Linked DNA regions of Homo sapiens. The protein of the gene in region 2 interacts with the protein of the main gene of each other region in a pairwise test. Each region holds a gene or a part of one and is shown on either strand. Other genes may lie near its edges.

What was found.
Region 1: the proteins of SCYL3 (region 2) and LHX8 interact in binary tests that used the Homo sapiens proteins (3 or more experiments, as listed by UniProt).

What each region holds. Positions count from the first base shown.
Region 1 is NC_000001.11:75,144,322-75,151,597, forward strand, and holds part of LHX8 (LIM/homeobox protein Lhx8), read left to right. Parts: intron 1-4,265; coding exon 4,266-4,361; intron 4,362-7,276. UniProt on the Homo sapiens protein: Transcription factor involved in differentiation of certain neurons and mesenchymal cells.
Region 2 is NC_000001.11:169,890,834-169,898,669, forward strand, and holds the start of SCYL3 (protein-associating with the carboxyl-terminal domain of ezrin), read right to left. Parts: upstream 3,064-7,836; 5' UTR 2,955-3,063; exon of another isoform or gene 2,643-2,954; intron 1-2,642. UniProt on the Homo sapiens protein: May play a role in regulating cell adhesion/migration complexes in migrating cells.

The DNA.
Region 1 (7,276 bases), about 95 Mb from region 2:
TGTCCCATGTGAGTCTATGGGACGCTAATGTGTTAGTCTTTGTAACAAACTGCAATGAGTCATTTAATGAACACAATTGTACAGTTTTTGAGTAGGAAATAATTGAAAGTGCCTTAAAGTAAATAGGAAACTACTGGTTGACTACAATTGAGCAGATTCCTTTATGTTTTTAAAGGTGGTAAAGGGAGTACTTCTATAATTTGATATTAAAGTTTTATTATGTCCCCTGAAAAGGGAGGGATTTTTTTTAGCTTAGTTGCCCTAAACATGATTGTTATAAATTTGATTTATACAAATTATCAAAATAATTAAATTACTCTTTGCTTTATAAACCTATATAATGATTCCTTCTGGCATTTTTGCAGATAATGAAATCATATTTTCTAAAAGATTAATGTGGCTGAGGTATTTGTTTCATGTTAAGGAAAAGTAACATTTGTTGAACGCCTATCACACTGCTGGGTACCTTATACATAGTATCCATCTTAGCTCAGACTTTAAAGGACATTTATGCAGTGTTAACAAATGAATAAAAGTAACTTTTTCGAAAATCACGTTTAGTATTCTAAGACCTGCCAGTATTTAAGATGGATACAAGTGTTTCAGGAGATAATTTTTATTTTGAGAATGATTTAGAAAAGAAACCTTGATGTGACACACATATTCCAAGGGAACGTGGCAATGGGAAGCACTCTAGCATTAAAATCTAGATCCATTCAGAAGAATTTTCCAAATGGATGATTGTTTCAGATTTCTTAATTTAGGCATAAATTCGATTTCTTAATTTAGGCATAAAGTACATAGTCAATAAGCAAAAAATGAAAGATAAGCCAATTGAAAGAAATATCTCTGTTTGAGCCTTGCTTTCTGGGTTCTTCATTGGATTATTATGAAGATCACACAATGCCCTGTCAGAAGATGTGAGTACTTCTGAAAGACCTGGAAAAATACTCAGTCACTAAAGGTGTCTAGTTAAAATAGAATCTCTAATATAAATCTGTTTTCACAATGGTCTGTTCCCATGAAGGACTGGCTGTAATTTTAATAATTACAAGGTTGATAACTTTCATTTGATATAATAATTTATTATTAAAAATAAAATTGTGAAAATTTGAAACCACTGTAGATAGACACTTTTCTATGGGAAAATAATTACAAATACTAATTAAATAAAATGGGAATAATATTTGTGGAGGTCTTTTTATGCCAAATCCTATACCAGGCATTTATCTACTTTATCTCCTTTAACTTTTACAACAAACCTCATTCAAGAGTGCAGGAACTCCTCAAAGCAAACCACCAAGGGAGTGGTTGAGAAGAGATTTGGAACCTTCTCCTCAAACATCTGGTCTCTTCATTTTGCTTGATCTTCCAGGAGACCATGAGTGGAAGTCTGTCTTATCAAAACTCCAATTAATAGCAGCAGCAGCTAAAACAAAAGAGTGAGATTTTGAATCTTGTAGATAGCCTTATGGTTAAACATGCATAAAATATTTAAGCCTTACATTATGGTATGTAAATGTGATCTAAATCATAAGTTTTAAAAATTGTATATCAGAATTATAGGTTTTAAAAAATGAAAGCATATTACCATTTTCAGATTACTGATGAAAGCATAGGTAATATGCTTTCAAAGTATATTCTCATTCAATATTTATTAGCATTTTATCTTATGGAAGGGGTGGCTGAAACAAATGAGATACAATCTTTGTCCTAAAGTGGTTCTTTATAATTTAGGAATCTGAAATAGATATTTTAAAAAACTGAATCATTTATTTTAGCCAGACACTCTAATAAATCGGTATCCTTATTGTCAAACTCTCCTACATTTAGGAATGCTGAATATTTTCAACTAGAGCTTGAATTTGGCAAGATAATAAAATATTACATGTGACCAGTGAGTAAGTCAAGACTATCTAGTCAGTACCTGCTTTGGACAGAGGAGAGTTAAAATGGAAGGGATAAATAAGAAAATTTTCCAAAATTATTCTATAGAGATTTATGGGGAGAAAAAATAGTTTAAGACTCAGAGGATGTATTGGCAAATATATTTCAAATACCGTCCCATTTGTAGAAATGATATTTAAGAATTTCCTGCTAATATTATGGATTGCTTATTCTATGTAGAAGCACTCACTTAGTGATTATTAATATTAAACACGCCAAAGTTAGCTCCTGCTTTAGTCTGTTTTCAGATCGAGTTACTGCTATGCAGCCTCCTGACTTTTCTGGTAGATCTCCTGGCCTAAAAATGATGAGTGTCTACAGAGGCTCACTCCTTGTCCACGTTAGAAGAACTTGGAAAAGGAGTGAAGTAGGCTTCAGCAGCATTAGTGCCTAGAGAATAGTGAAACTAAGTAGAAATTAAAAGTACCTCTTTTTTCTTTTTGTGTGTGTGAGACTAATCATTGATACTATTGAAAGGAAGAACAATCAACTCATCTTACTTTTCCTTTAGAATATTTCAATTCTAAATGATCAGAGTTGTTTTGCTTTACTCTTTAATGAGAAATTACTTAACTAAATACAATTTGATTGCAGTTAAATTTGTGAATTTAAAAATGCATTTATGAAAGGCATGAAGTTTCTGTTTTGTAAATTATTAATAATGACCTTACAAAATCCCCAAATCTGTTCAACATTTTTCTATTTGAAAAATTAAAAAACAAAGACATAATTTGCTCGTTCTTTTTGGGGTTATTACATGTTCAACTGCATAGAAACATAACTCTATTTTCACAGGAAGATACCAAAGTAACACATTTGGAGTAGGAAAGAAAGAATAAAGTGAACTGAGCAAGAATAAACTTTTAAGCCAATTCTGCCCTTTTTTAAAAGCAAAAATCCATGTTCTGTTTACAGTGAGTCTGTAGATACAATATAGTTAGATGGGAAGCCAAGAATACTTAATTCTAGAAGGGTAAATTTGTAAATCTCAAAATTTGTAAACCTCAGAAGGTTTCCCAGAACAATATTGGCCTTTTTTTCTACACTGTCTTCAGATTTTCCTTACATTGCCAAGTTTTACTCTGTCAGAAACTCTTAACATACTCTCTGACAGAAAGGGAGTTTAACTCCTAGGGATACGAAAAATAAGACATTCCCCTTGATCTCAAGGAACTCACTTTCCACTATGGAGATAAACTTGAAAACAAATTATTTAGCTACCCTGTGACAAGTGCAGTGGCAGAAGATAGCATTATATGAGGAGCATAGTGGAGAATGCAATTAATTTTGCCTGCTGAAAAGAGTGAAGTCCAGCAGTGCTTGAGGTCTTTAATAGATTGGTTACCCACATCCTATGCCTGTAGACAAGCACAATCACATTGGGTGCCAAGCTCTTCTCTCTCATTCTTCATAATAATACATTTTTTACATTTTGTAATGCTTCCCTCAGTTGACTGACTTTTAGTAATAAAATTCAAGTATCTCACTTAATTCTCATAATGATTCTCTTTTCTGAAAGAATTCAAAGTTTTTGGCTTGTGCTTATATTCTGGTACTCTCTCCCACACTACTCTTCTCCCTTTATCTTTTATTATAGGTAGTCATTGGCATGTCGGCATCTTTCTGCCAGGAAATTAAATCCAAAGAGTTTTGTTTCATGTTTCACTATCTCTTAGCACTTGGCATAGTGGTTTCAATCCAAAGGCTTACATCAGAATCACCTGTAAGCTTTTAAAATATATACATGTTTAGACTCTGGTAAATTCTTATTCAGTGGACTGGTGAGTGTCTCTTTTTAGACACCTTTTTTTTTGCATAGAGCTAGTGCTCAAAACTATGATGGAGTTGTTACAATTAAGTGGAATCCTTCTGTTGATCTGTATACTATTAGGTATTAGGGGCCTTGAACATCTTTAGCTCAGGAAAGGTTGGAGACAAATGTGATATGATTTTTGTATTAAGTTTTCAAATGTTGGCAGTTTTTAACAAAATGGAAAAAACAATAAATGAAACTCTTGCTATTTGATTTGTGGGTTATAAGATTGAAAGAAAAGAAAAGGTGAGCTTATTTTTAACAGCATAGTTGAGAGAGTTTTACATTGAAATGGATTTTTTTAAAGTTCTCAGCATAGCAACTTGTGTATAAATTTACAAAATATGCATTCGTTTTCACTTACCCATATTTCCCCATACCGATTTTCAAGTAACAAAAGTATCCCATGTTCTTGTGCATGTCTTACCTCTTATGATAAAAATGCAGGAAGAAGACTGAGCTGCTTGTTTTTAGCTATTTACTACATACATGTTTTAAACAACAGGTTATGCAAGCACAATTTGCTCAGGACAACAACCCAGATGCACAGACACTCCAGAAATTGGCAGAAAGGACAGGCTTGAGCAGACGTGTGATACAGGTGATTACTTTACTTTTTTTTTTTTTTAAGGTTTTTAAAAAATAGATATTGGGTCTCCCTATGTTGCCCAGACTGATCTTGAACTCTTGAGCTTAAGTGATTCTCCCACCTCAGCCTCCCAAAGTAATGGGATTACAGGATGAGCCACTGTACCTGGCCACAGGTGATTAACTTAAAGGTCAATCAAGAGAAACAAAAAGTTCTAATTCTGGGTATTTATAAGTATGCATTGGTGTTTTTTTGTGTGTGAAGAAATGTGAAAACATTGCTTTTTCATTTTAAGTCTCTTCACATTCTAAATCAAATTTTTAAAATGTAATGATTATCCTGCTTGGGCTAGGCTACCATTTGTCAAATGAGTCTTTGCTCATGTTACTTCATTCAGTACTCACAGCAACCCTAAGATCCTCAGGCTAAACATGTTCCAAGATAAATCTTGCTCTAAGGTCAGTGTTTTTCCTACTTTTTTTATGATTGTGTGTGTGATGGCTGCTGATGGCCTTTGCCAAAGATCCAGGGAGAGGAACTGGTGTGAACAAAGCTGAAAAGTGATGAATTAGTGCAAGTTTTTTCAAATGTAGAATTTATGTTTGGAAATAGTGGGAAATGAAATTGTTGGAGTTAAAGTTGGAGAGGCCTGTGAATGCAGAGTTCTCTTATGAGCAGGTAAAAGCCATGATATGTGATTTTAGGAAGAAAGGGCTAGTCACAGCACATGGGAAGAACTGGAGTTGGGAGAGACTAGATAGAGGTAAGCAGCTTAGTTGGAAGGCTGGAATGCCCAGCAACGTAGTGTGGTTTTGTTGTTGTTGTTGTTGTTGTTTGTTTTTTGTTTGTTTGTTTCTGAAGAGACACTTTACTGGGGTAGAATTCATTTGGGAAACTTTTTGAAACAGGGTCATGGGTGGCCTAGGCTGGAGTGCAGTGACGCAATCACAGCTCACTGCAGCGACCTCCAGGTCTCAGGTGATCCTCCCACCTCAGCCTCCCAAATAACTGGGACCACAGTTGCACACCACCACGCCTGGCTAATTTTTAAATTTTTGTAGAAACAGAGTCTCACCGTGTTGCCCAGGCTGGTCTCAAATTCCTAGACTCAAGTAATCCTCCTCCCTTGGCCTCCCAAAGTGCTGGAATTATTGGCAATGAGCCACCATGCCCAGCTGAGAAACATTTTATTGAGTGAACACTGATGACAGTTGATGGATGCTAGAAAGACAAGAAAGAATTGGTAACTGCAATGGGGAAGCAGAGAGGAGTCAAAGAGTAAATGACTCTGCCAGGCTCAGTTGCTCACACCTGTAATCCCAGCATTTTGGGAGGTCAAGGCAAATATGTCACTTGAGTACAGGAGTTTGATACCAGTCTAGGCAAGATGGTGAAACCCCATCTCTACAGGAAAAAAAACAGCCAGGCATGCTAGTGTGTACCTGCAGTCCCAGCTACTTGGGAGGCTGAGGTGGGAGGGTCACCTAAGTCCAGGAGGTTGAAGCTGCAGTCAGCCATGATAGTACCACTGCACTCCAGCCTGGGTGATGGAGTAAGATCCTCTCTCAAAAAAGTCAGTGACTTATAAATTTCAAGTCAAAGTAATCTTGGGAATGGTGCCATTGACAGGAATGTGAAAGTCAAAAGAAAGCTGGATTGGAAGTTGGACCCTTTTAGCTGTGCTAATTATGCAGTGATGGTGGCAGTTAACTATGCAAACAGGTATTTGAAAGAATGAACAGGACTCAAGCAAAGAGATCTAATGCCATGAAATTAGATAAGATCCTTTAGAAAGAGATCATAGGGTATAAAAGGTGAAGAACGGGTTTCAGAGAGGAGAGCAGGGTAAGAGGTGCTATTTAAATGGGACGTAGTAACAGCCAGAGTTGAGGAAGGAGTCGGGTGGAGAAGAAGCATGGAAGCTGAAGAAGTGGGGTGAATTCAAGAACGAGATGGCCAGCTGTGTCAAGATTATCAGAGAGACCAGGGAAATGGAAAATAATTTTATTTCTTTTTTTTTTTTTTTTCGAGACAGAGTCTCTGTCACCCAGGCTGGAGTGCAGTGGTGTGATCTCGGCTCACTGGAACCTCCGCCTCCCGGGTTCAAGCAATTCTCCTGCCTCAGCCTTCTGAGTAGCTGGGATTACAGGTGCAAGCCACCATGCCTAGCTAATTTTTGTATTTTTAGTAGAGACGGGGTTTCACCATGTTGGTCAGGCTGTTCTCAAACTCTTGACCTTGTGATCCGCCCGCCTCAGCCTTCCAAAGTGACGGGATTACAGGGGTGAGCCACCGTGCCTAGCCGGAAAATAATTTTAAATAACACCGGAAGTTCAAAAAATTTAAGGAGTGAAAGCAAGTAACCATAAAAGGCAAGAGGAAACTCAGGGAGGGGAAAGGCAAATGTCTTCATTGCACATATTTTATTTTGTTTCTTAATTTGGGTGGTTGATACATGGGTACTTATTCTTCTGTAAGCCTAAAGGTTTCATAATTAACAAATCACCTGTACGAAGAAGCAGATGGAAAAGACCTGATGATACTGCAGCTTCTCTAAAGACCTAGGGTTCACAGTGTTTTAATTGACTGCAAGGTAATGAGGCTGTCTTAGGAGACAAGTTCTACCACTTCAGCACTTTCAGATATCCAGATTATTGTGCTTATTTCAGAGTGCCAAATTTTAAGAAGGGACTAATAAGCAATCTGAAAAACATACTACCTCAAAGGCTACCAGGGTTGTGAAAGATTTAGATCATGCCATAATATTAAAGGCAGCAGGGATATTTATCTGGAGATAAGGCCAGGAGATGGTAAGAGAAAGAGTAATATCCAGAGTAGGTGTCTTTAAATATTTGTGAAAGGCTTCCCTGCAACGGAATGTAGAAAAAGGCACTGGTGTTCACTCATAATGAATTTTCTCATTATTG
Region 2 (7,836 bases):
CCTTTCTACTGGGACTACAAATAAAAAGTTTATGTGGGACCATGGGTAAAAGCAACAATGCTAATCCCTCTGTTCTGGAGATAGAGTGCTGGCCAGATTGTCACAACCTCCTGCTGAGTAGGGAGGATTATGCTTAGCACTTGATCTTGCCACCTCTTCTTGGGCACAGTTAATGTTGGCAGGTACCTATCCTGGGCCAAAGGGCGGTTAATTCACAAATTAGCCATCAATTTCATGGCCTGAGTGAAGAGATAAACTGGCCAGATCATTGTCTCCCCCAGGAATTTGAACTAAGAACAATTTTTGCCTATTAGAAGCATAGCCGAAGGTAGAAGGATGCTATGAGGTGGAGGTGGAGCTACGGCAAACCAAAGCCACATGAAGTCAGAAACTTTCCAGAGGAAGTCAGTTGGTAGTAAAATTTTAAAAAGCAAACACTGGGACCGTAGCTTAGTCATACTTAGGGGGCACATTACTACTATCCATCTCAAGACTACCGGAAGCCCAGCCTCAAATCTAATTCCACCCAGATACCCTAACATCCCATTGACACCCTTACAACCAGCCCCCTTTTCCTCAGGTAACTTGAATGGGTCTATGTTCTTTGAAACTAATTGCCATTTCATAGGCAGAAAGCTCTACTTGGTCTCCAACTCCTGCCTGAAAAGCCAGTCAGACTGGAAGAGTGAGTTACAGAAGTGTTACTTTGAAAGTATCTGAAGCTAGTCTGACCGTCTCTCTCTCACCCACAAAACACAGCTTTCCAAAATCAACACACAATTAAGAGAAAAGCAGAGAATAAGGGACTGTATATTAATGAATATCTTCTTCGCAGGAAATCATGCTGTTTATTTAAGTGTTAATATTAATCCTCATGGGAGATAAGACTGCCACCAGGATTCAGGGTCAGTGCTCTGGCTGATGAATGGCAGTCACCAGAGGCAAGAGAAAGGAACATTTAATTTACTTAGCTATTTCTAAATAGCAAAATACTTCCTTGTGGGAACATTGGCCTTGCAATAGCTATTAACCTTAGATTTCATATGAATTCCACTATAATTAACAAAGTTATAAAAGCATTAGGAAGTAGTTAAAATTCATTTTTCTTACTGTATTTTAGGTCTAAGACTAAAAAAATCACTTAAAAATTAAAAAGGGATGACTCAATTTCTTGAGAGAACTGGAAAGGATGCCATTTTCTTGTTTTGAAAGCATGTTAACTTTGACAGAAGTCCACTGATACCATCAGTGTAATACTGACAGTGGTAAGATTATATTGTATGTTCCCAGTGCAAACTTTATTGGGGGAAAATTAAAAAGGTGTGCTGATTATTGCAATTTGAGAATGTTTTGAAGCAGTAATTCTTCACACTAATATATCTAAAGAAGCACAAATACTGTTATATGAAGAAGTTTTTTTGTTTGTTTTTTGTTTTAAATAGAGATATGGTCTTGTTCTGTTGCTGCTGGCCTAGAGTGCATTGGCGCTATCCTATCTCACTGTAACCTGGAATTCCTGGGCTCAAGCTACCTGCCCTCCCCAGCCTCCCTAGTTGCTGAGATTACAGGCATGTGCCACCATGCCCGCCAGTGCTTTAAAAATGATAATTCAGCTAAAATTGATTTATTGAAATGTAAGAAAAACACTTGGCCTTCCAAAATGCTTTCCTGTTGTTTTGAGGACGGGGAAAACACAAAATCTTGCTCATTAGCTTTGAAATTAAAAAGTCACAAGAAGGTAGAAAAGGATATCCTAGTATCCCGTAATAGGTATTTCGTAGCACTTAGCATCTCCACTCTATAATAAAATGCTGAGTTGACAGTCTCTGACTTGAATATGCATCAGTCTTCCCTTTAATAATCTCCCTCCACTCTTTTGCCTACTTGGGCAGCACATAAAATTTCTGGACCGCTTGTAGATTAAGAAAACCCTTGTCTAGGTCAAAGGGCAACTCATACACTCAACTAAGAAACCCGTGTGCTCTATGGAAATGTTTCTACCAAATATTTTCTTTTCCCAGCAATTACTCGAGACTACCTTGGTCCTAGCTCCCTTAGCTTGAAAGTTCCAAAGATAATGGCTTGCACTCTGAGTATTAAGGATGCACTGTACTGGCTGATATTCTGGTATCCAGCGGTAACGTTACTCCGGCCCTTGCTTTCGTGTTTCAGGTATATATTCCCTCTGCGGAACTCAGTCCAGCATTGCTAGCTGACAAGCAATACACAATTAAGTCTTTATGGACCAAAATAATTGTGATTTCAGCTCAAGATACATTTTATAAGAACATGGGTCCCTAAAAACAGCAGTTAACAGTGACCCCCAAAATTCGAGACCCGACTCCGAGAATTTCACATGGATTCCTGAATATGCTCTTCCGAGAAATGTTTCATCTTTATTCTAAACAGAAAGCACTATGCCAAGACAGGAGCCAGCTGGGCCTTGGGGGACGGGCACTGGTCTTGGATCAAGAATGAGGCCGCCTTCCCGAGGGCGGGCGCGCCCCCAGGATCCCCCCGGGCTCGGGCACTGCCGCCCCGGGACAGTGACCCGCCCAGCCGAGCACCCTCGCCCTGCTTGCCGCGACCCCGCGGGGTCACTGAAGGGCCGAGGCGCCGCTCTCGCTTCGCTGGCCCCTCACCTTCCACACCTCCCTGCGAGGACCGACTCCGCGGCCGCCTTGGAGAGCTCTGGCCGCGGGCGCCTCACCCGTCGGGGGCCGCCCGCGAAGCGCAGATTACAGGGCGCCCCACAATCAGCAAGGGGAGGCTGCTCCGAAGCTGAGAGCACAGCTCAACCGGCCGCCGGCGCCGCGCCGAGCTCGCTCCCGCGCGGGCCCCAGAGCGCAGACCCGCGAGCGGGGCGCGCGCCCGCCGCCTCCTCCCCGCCCGGCCCCTTCCCCCACGGCGCAGTCCTGCAAGGACTGGGGGCGCAGCGCAGGGCTCCCTGTTACCTGCAGGAAGGCGGCGGGGGAGGAGGCCGAGGGTCTTGGCTCTGGTACCCTGTTGGCCCCCCTGTTGACACCAACCACCCCTGCCTGCCTGTAAGGCTGTGGCCACTACACCCACAATCTTCTGGGGGCCGGGTTTCTCCTACACCATAGAGACGGGTCCGGAAACGGGACAGAAGGCCCACCTTCCTCCCTCCGACGCCACCAATGAGGCCAACTAACCAGGAACCGAGGTAGAGAGGCCGCACAGCTGAGTCTCAGGCCGGTGCCATCTTAAGTGTGGGCGCCGCGACGATACCGAGTTTCACTCACTGCCCCAGTGGTCTAGTTAGTCCACGAAGATGCCCCCTTTCTAGATGTGTTGGTCGAATGCTTAAGTTTGTCTTGACTTGAATTTTTAGGCTTTTAACAGCACAGTTTTAATTTCATTTCCGCCCAAATCCAAAATGGCTGCTGGCCACTTGTAGCAAACAGTAGAGGTGCAGGGCGGAGAAAAGGAGTACGGGAATTAGCGAGGACTTTCAGGAGAGTGACGTCACTCAACCTGTAGCTTTGATTGGCTGGGCTGCGAGGGTGGAGTCGTGCAGAGCCGCTGCTGGCGGAGGTCGTGGTGATCTCGCTTGATCTTTGAGAGGGAAGGTCCTGAATCACATTTCATTTAGCAAAAAGTAATATTTGAAAATTTTAATATTAATGCAGTAGTTTTGCCCCCCTCCATGCTTTCTGCAGTGTCAGTTACCTGTGGTCAAACCTTGGTTCAGAAATGTTAAATGGAAAACTCCAGAAATAAACAATTCTTAAGTTTCAAACCGCCTGTATTCTGAGTAGCCCGATTAAATCTCGGGCCATCCACTCTGTCCCACCCTTGACGCGAATCATCTGTCGCAGGTAGCCGCGCTGTGTACAGTATCCACTCATTACCCACTCAGTAGCTGCTTTGGTTAACAGATGCACCCGTAGTATAGCAGAGATAATGAGAGATACCACCTGCTTATGTTCAGGTAACCCTTATTTTACTTAATAATGGCCGCAAAGCACAGGAATTGTGCTGACAATTTGGATATGCCGAGGAGAAGCTGTAAAGTGCTTCCTTTAAATGAAAAGGTGAAAGCTCTGGACTTAATAAGGAAAGAAAAAGAGTCATATGCTGAGGTTGCCAAAATCTATGATAAGAACAAATTATCCATGAAATTGTGAAGAAGGAAAAAGATTCGTGCTAGTTAACTAAGCACCTATCATGCACTGTGGCTGTAACTTTTGTAGTTTGAGGTGCAACAGCAAAAGACGGAAAAGGCATTACATTTGTGGGTGGGAGACATGAACAGAAAACGTATTTCAGCTGACCGCAGTAAGTTTTGCCAGAAAGTGTTGAGCCTATAGGAAGACTTAAGAAAGGGATCCCCTGAAATTAGGCACACCAAGCTATTTACTGCAAGTAAGGGATGGCTACACAGATTCAGGAATAGGTTTGGACTGAAAAACATAAAAATAACTGGAGAGGCCACATCTGCTGATGAAGAAGCTGCCACATGTCTGGCAGAGTTGAAGACATTGGTTAAGGAGAAAGGCTTCCAGGAGATTGATGGATAAGTTAGGAAAATCATTCAGGTAGCAATGAAACTGCCTTTGCAAAATTATGACTAAGGCAGTTAAAGAGATCCAATTTAACCAACTCCATCTTGTCCTTAACCTCCATGCTATCCTTGTTCATTCCTGGGCATAGGCTGAACTAACTTTGGAAGGAAATTAGTTTATAATTTACAGTTTAAAACAAAAACAATAAAAGCCCTTTCCCAAAACCAACCTCCTTCTTGCCTGGGGTCTAGACTACCAACATTAGCCACAAGATTAGAAATTATGGTTTGGGAGTCATGCAGCTGGAGGCCACAAGATTCTGACCCTCCCTAAACTGCTCCTGAGATCAGTGCTTCAGATGTTTTGCAGACCCTGCACTTGATGGATCAGCTGGCAACACCCAGATGATAAACTGGCCCATCTGATCTTGTGACCCCCACCCAGAACTGACTCAGTTCAAGAAGACAGTGATGCCCCATAGTTTCATCTCCGACCCAACCAATCAGCACTCCCTGACTTACTGCCCCTCCCCACCCACCAAATTGTCTTTAAAAACTCGACTGCTGGAGGAGACTGATTTGAGTAATAATAAAACTCTGGCCCCCCACACAGCCAGCTCTGCATGAATTCTTTGTCTATTGCAATTCCCCGTCTTGATAAATTGGCTCTATCTAGGCAGACGGCAAGGTGAACCTACTGGGCGGTTATAGCAAGACAAGTTGGTGAAAAAGGATTTGTCAATATGCTTGATGAAGAGGTGGGAGAACATATCAAAGGCCTCACTATCCATTCTGAGGACAGGTTTAACCTTCTCAAACTAGAAGCAGGGCTTAGTCACCCTGGACAGTCTCTAGTTCTGTGCCTCCTCCCACTTCCTCTATGTGGTCAGTCCAGACATCTGCCTTGTATGACCGCCTCTGGTGACCACCTCCCTATCGAACCATCAGGTACAAGCTGCTTGCTTCATCCCCTTGACCCCTATACCCCACATATACTTTGCAGATATGCCTCAGTGACCACCTCTTAGTCACAGTGGGACTAAGATGTTGGACCCAGGACCACAGTGAAGGCTTTGGCCCGCAAGTCCCTCTCTCTGTCTCGTCCCCCTCCCACTGGTTGAGCATGTGTGTCCCCCTTCTCATTGGCCCTGTGAGGCATGCTGTCCTCTTATTATGGATCTGTAAGTAATGAAACTGCTTCTATTATTTCACATGTTTTGTTCACCTCCTCTGTGTCTCACCTGACCTATACACCCACACCTGACTTGTTTCCTGGTTAGGGCTCTCCTAGAGAGTGGCTGTCTTGGTTGGAATAAACCAGACACGGGGCAGACAAGAGCCACAAATGTGCCTGCTAATATAAACAAGCTTCCTGTGAGAGGGACCTCCTGTCATGGGTCAGACACCTAGGATTTAGGCCGTCTGCCAGGATAAAGAAGTATTCCATGGAAGGCACACTGTAAATATCCAAGCCCCATCACGGAAGAGCTAACGTTTATAACCACTCCCAGAGAGAGACCTCGAGACCGAATTAGAAAAGAAATACAACACATAGACCCTAGGTTTACTAGCTCCAACATCCATTCCCACTCCTCACCCCCTTCTCCCTTGTTCACCTTCGATAAAGAAGTTAAGAAATCAAAAAGATCACTTTCTGAGCCTACTTTCCCGCTAGGGTGGTCACAAGTTCTGGCCGGTGAGACATAGCAGAAGTTGGGAGGAAGATAGACAGTGGATTAGGAAAGGTTTTTCCTCCCTATTAAAGGAAATGGCTGTGGGTGTAACAGCAGCAGCCACCCAAGCACCAGGAGACAGCGGGAGAACATGCTGAGGATGTCGATTTGAAAGACAGAAGGATTCTCTTGCCTTTCACACTATCCCTCGAGAGTTCATAACTATGTTTTTCCTCCTTTTACAGGAGGAGTAGAGATGAGTCCCTTCAACCAGTACGTGAAATCTTCTGCAGTCAACACAGCTACTTGCTGGCCCACCCTCTTCCCAGTGTCCTCACCTCTGAGTCTTTGCTGGCCTTCCCACCCTGTTCCTTGCTCCCTAATCTTATGTCCAGATGTGCTGAGCTCCAGGGTATCCTCTATAATCATTCATCAGCCTAGAGGACTCTGTATTTCCTTTCATTTCCCCAAGGTAAACCCACTCCTCCAAATATCAATGAGAAGGGAATATTTTGCAGTGAATGGAGTAGGAGAGAGATGGGAGGGAGTTTGACACTCAGTCCTTCCCCTCTTCACTCTTCATCTACTCACCTATTTGCTCTTGATGTCACTCAGGTCTCTGAACAAATGTCACCTGTTCAGACTCTTAAAGATTTGGGGCATTGAAATCACAGGCTAACTTGTATATTTTTGTCCAACAAAGATGCAAATCTTTCTGTCCAGTGGAAAAGTTAACCCCAAAGTTTATTCTTATTGCACTAGAGAGCATTTCTCATTTTAAAATCTAATCTAGTAATCTTACTGTATTTCTTTATAAAATTGCTTGTAAGTATGTAGCTACACAAATGCTCTTTGAACAGTCTTAATGTCTTTTTAGTTTCCTCATTAACTAATGTGTTCATTTTATATTTGCATGAGAGTTATAATTATATTTTGAAAATTCTACTTGAATGCAATTTATCAGAGACAGCTCCCCTGAAAACACTGTCTAAAACAGCACCTTACCTGCCTCTTCCTGTCTTTTGACTTTGCCTTATTTTGCTTAACACCAATGCACATATTTGTTCAGCATCTCTGTCCCACAGCTAGAACATCAGCTCCCTGAAAACAGGGCTTCCTTCCTTCATTTCTTTCTTTCCTGCCATATTTCTAGCACATAACACAGTGCCTAGAACATACTAGGTACTCAGTAAATATTAAACACACAAATGAATTTACTGAGAGCACACTGCATGTCCCAGGCACCCTCCCTACATCTCTCTGCCTCCCAGCCCTTACCCCACAGAGCCCTCTATAGCTCTGGTTCCAGTTCTCAGTTCCCTGGAGCTGCTCTCTGAGCTCCTTCTGCCTTTCTTATGCATAGAAATCTTGTATTCCCTCACTGATTCCTCAGTCCTCATTTTAAATATGTCTAAGGCCAGGAAAGAAAAGAATCTCCAACAACCTGAATCCGCTGTCCTTGGAATGTGGCTGGTGGGACAGTTAGAAACAAATAGTTTGTTTTCTTAATAGAAATAATTTTTTCTTGTCATACTGTTTAAGGATCAACCTGAATTTTACTTCCAACCAATCCTCTTCTTAATTCAAATCAAAACATGTCAATGGTATTCAGCTTGACTTTTAGGTGTTTTTTTAATT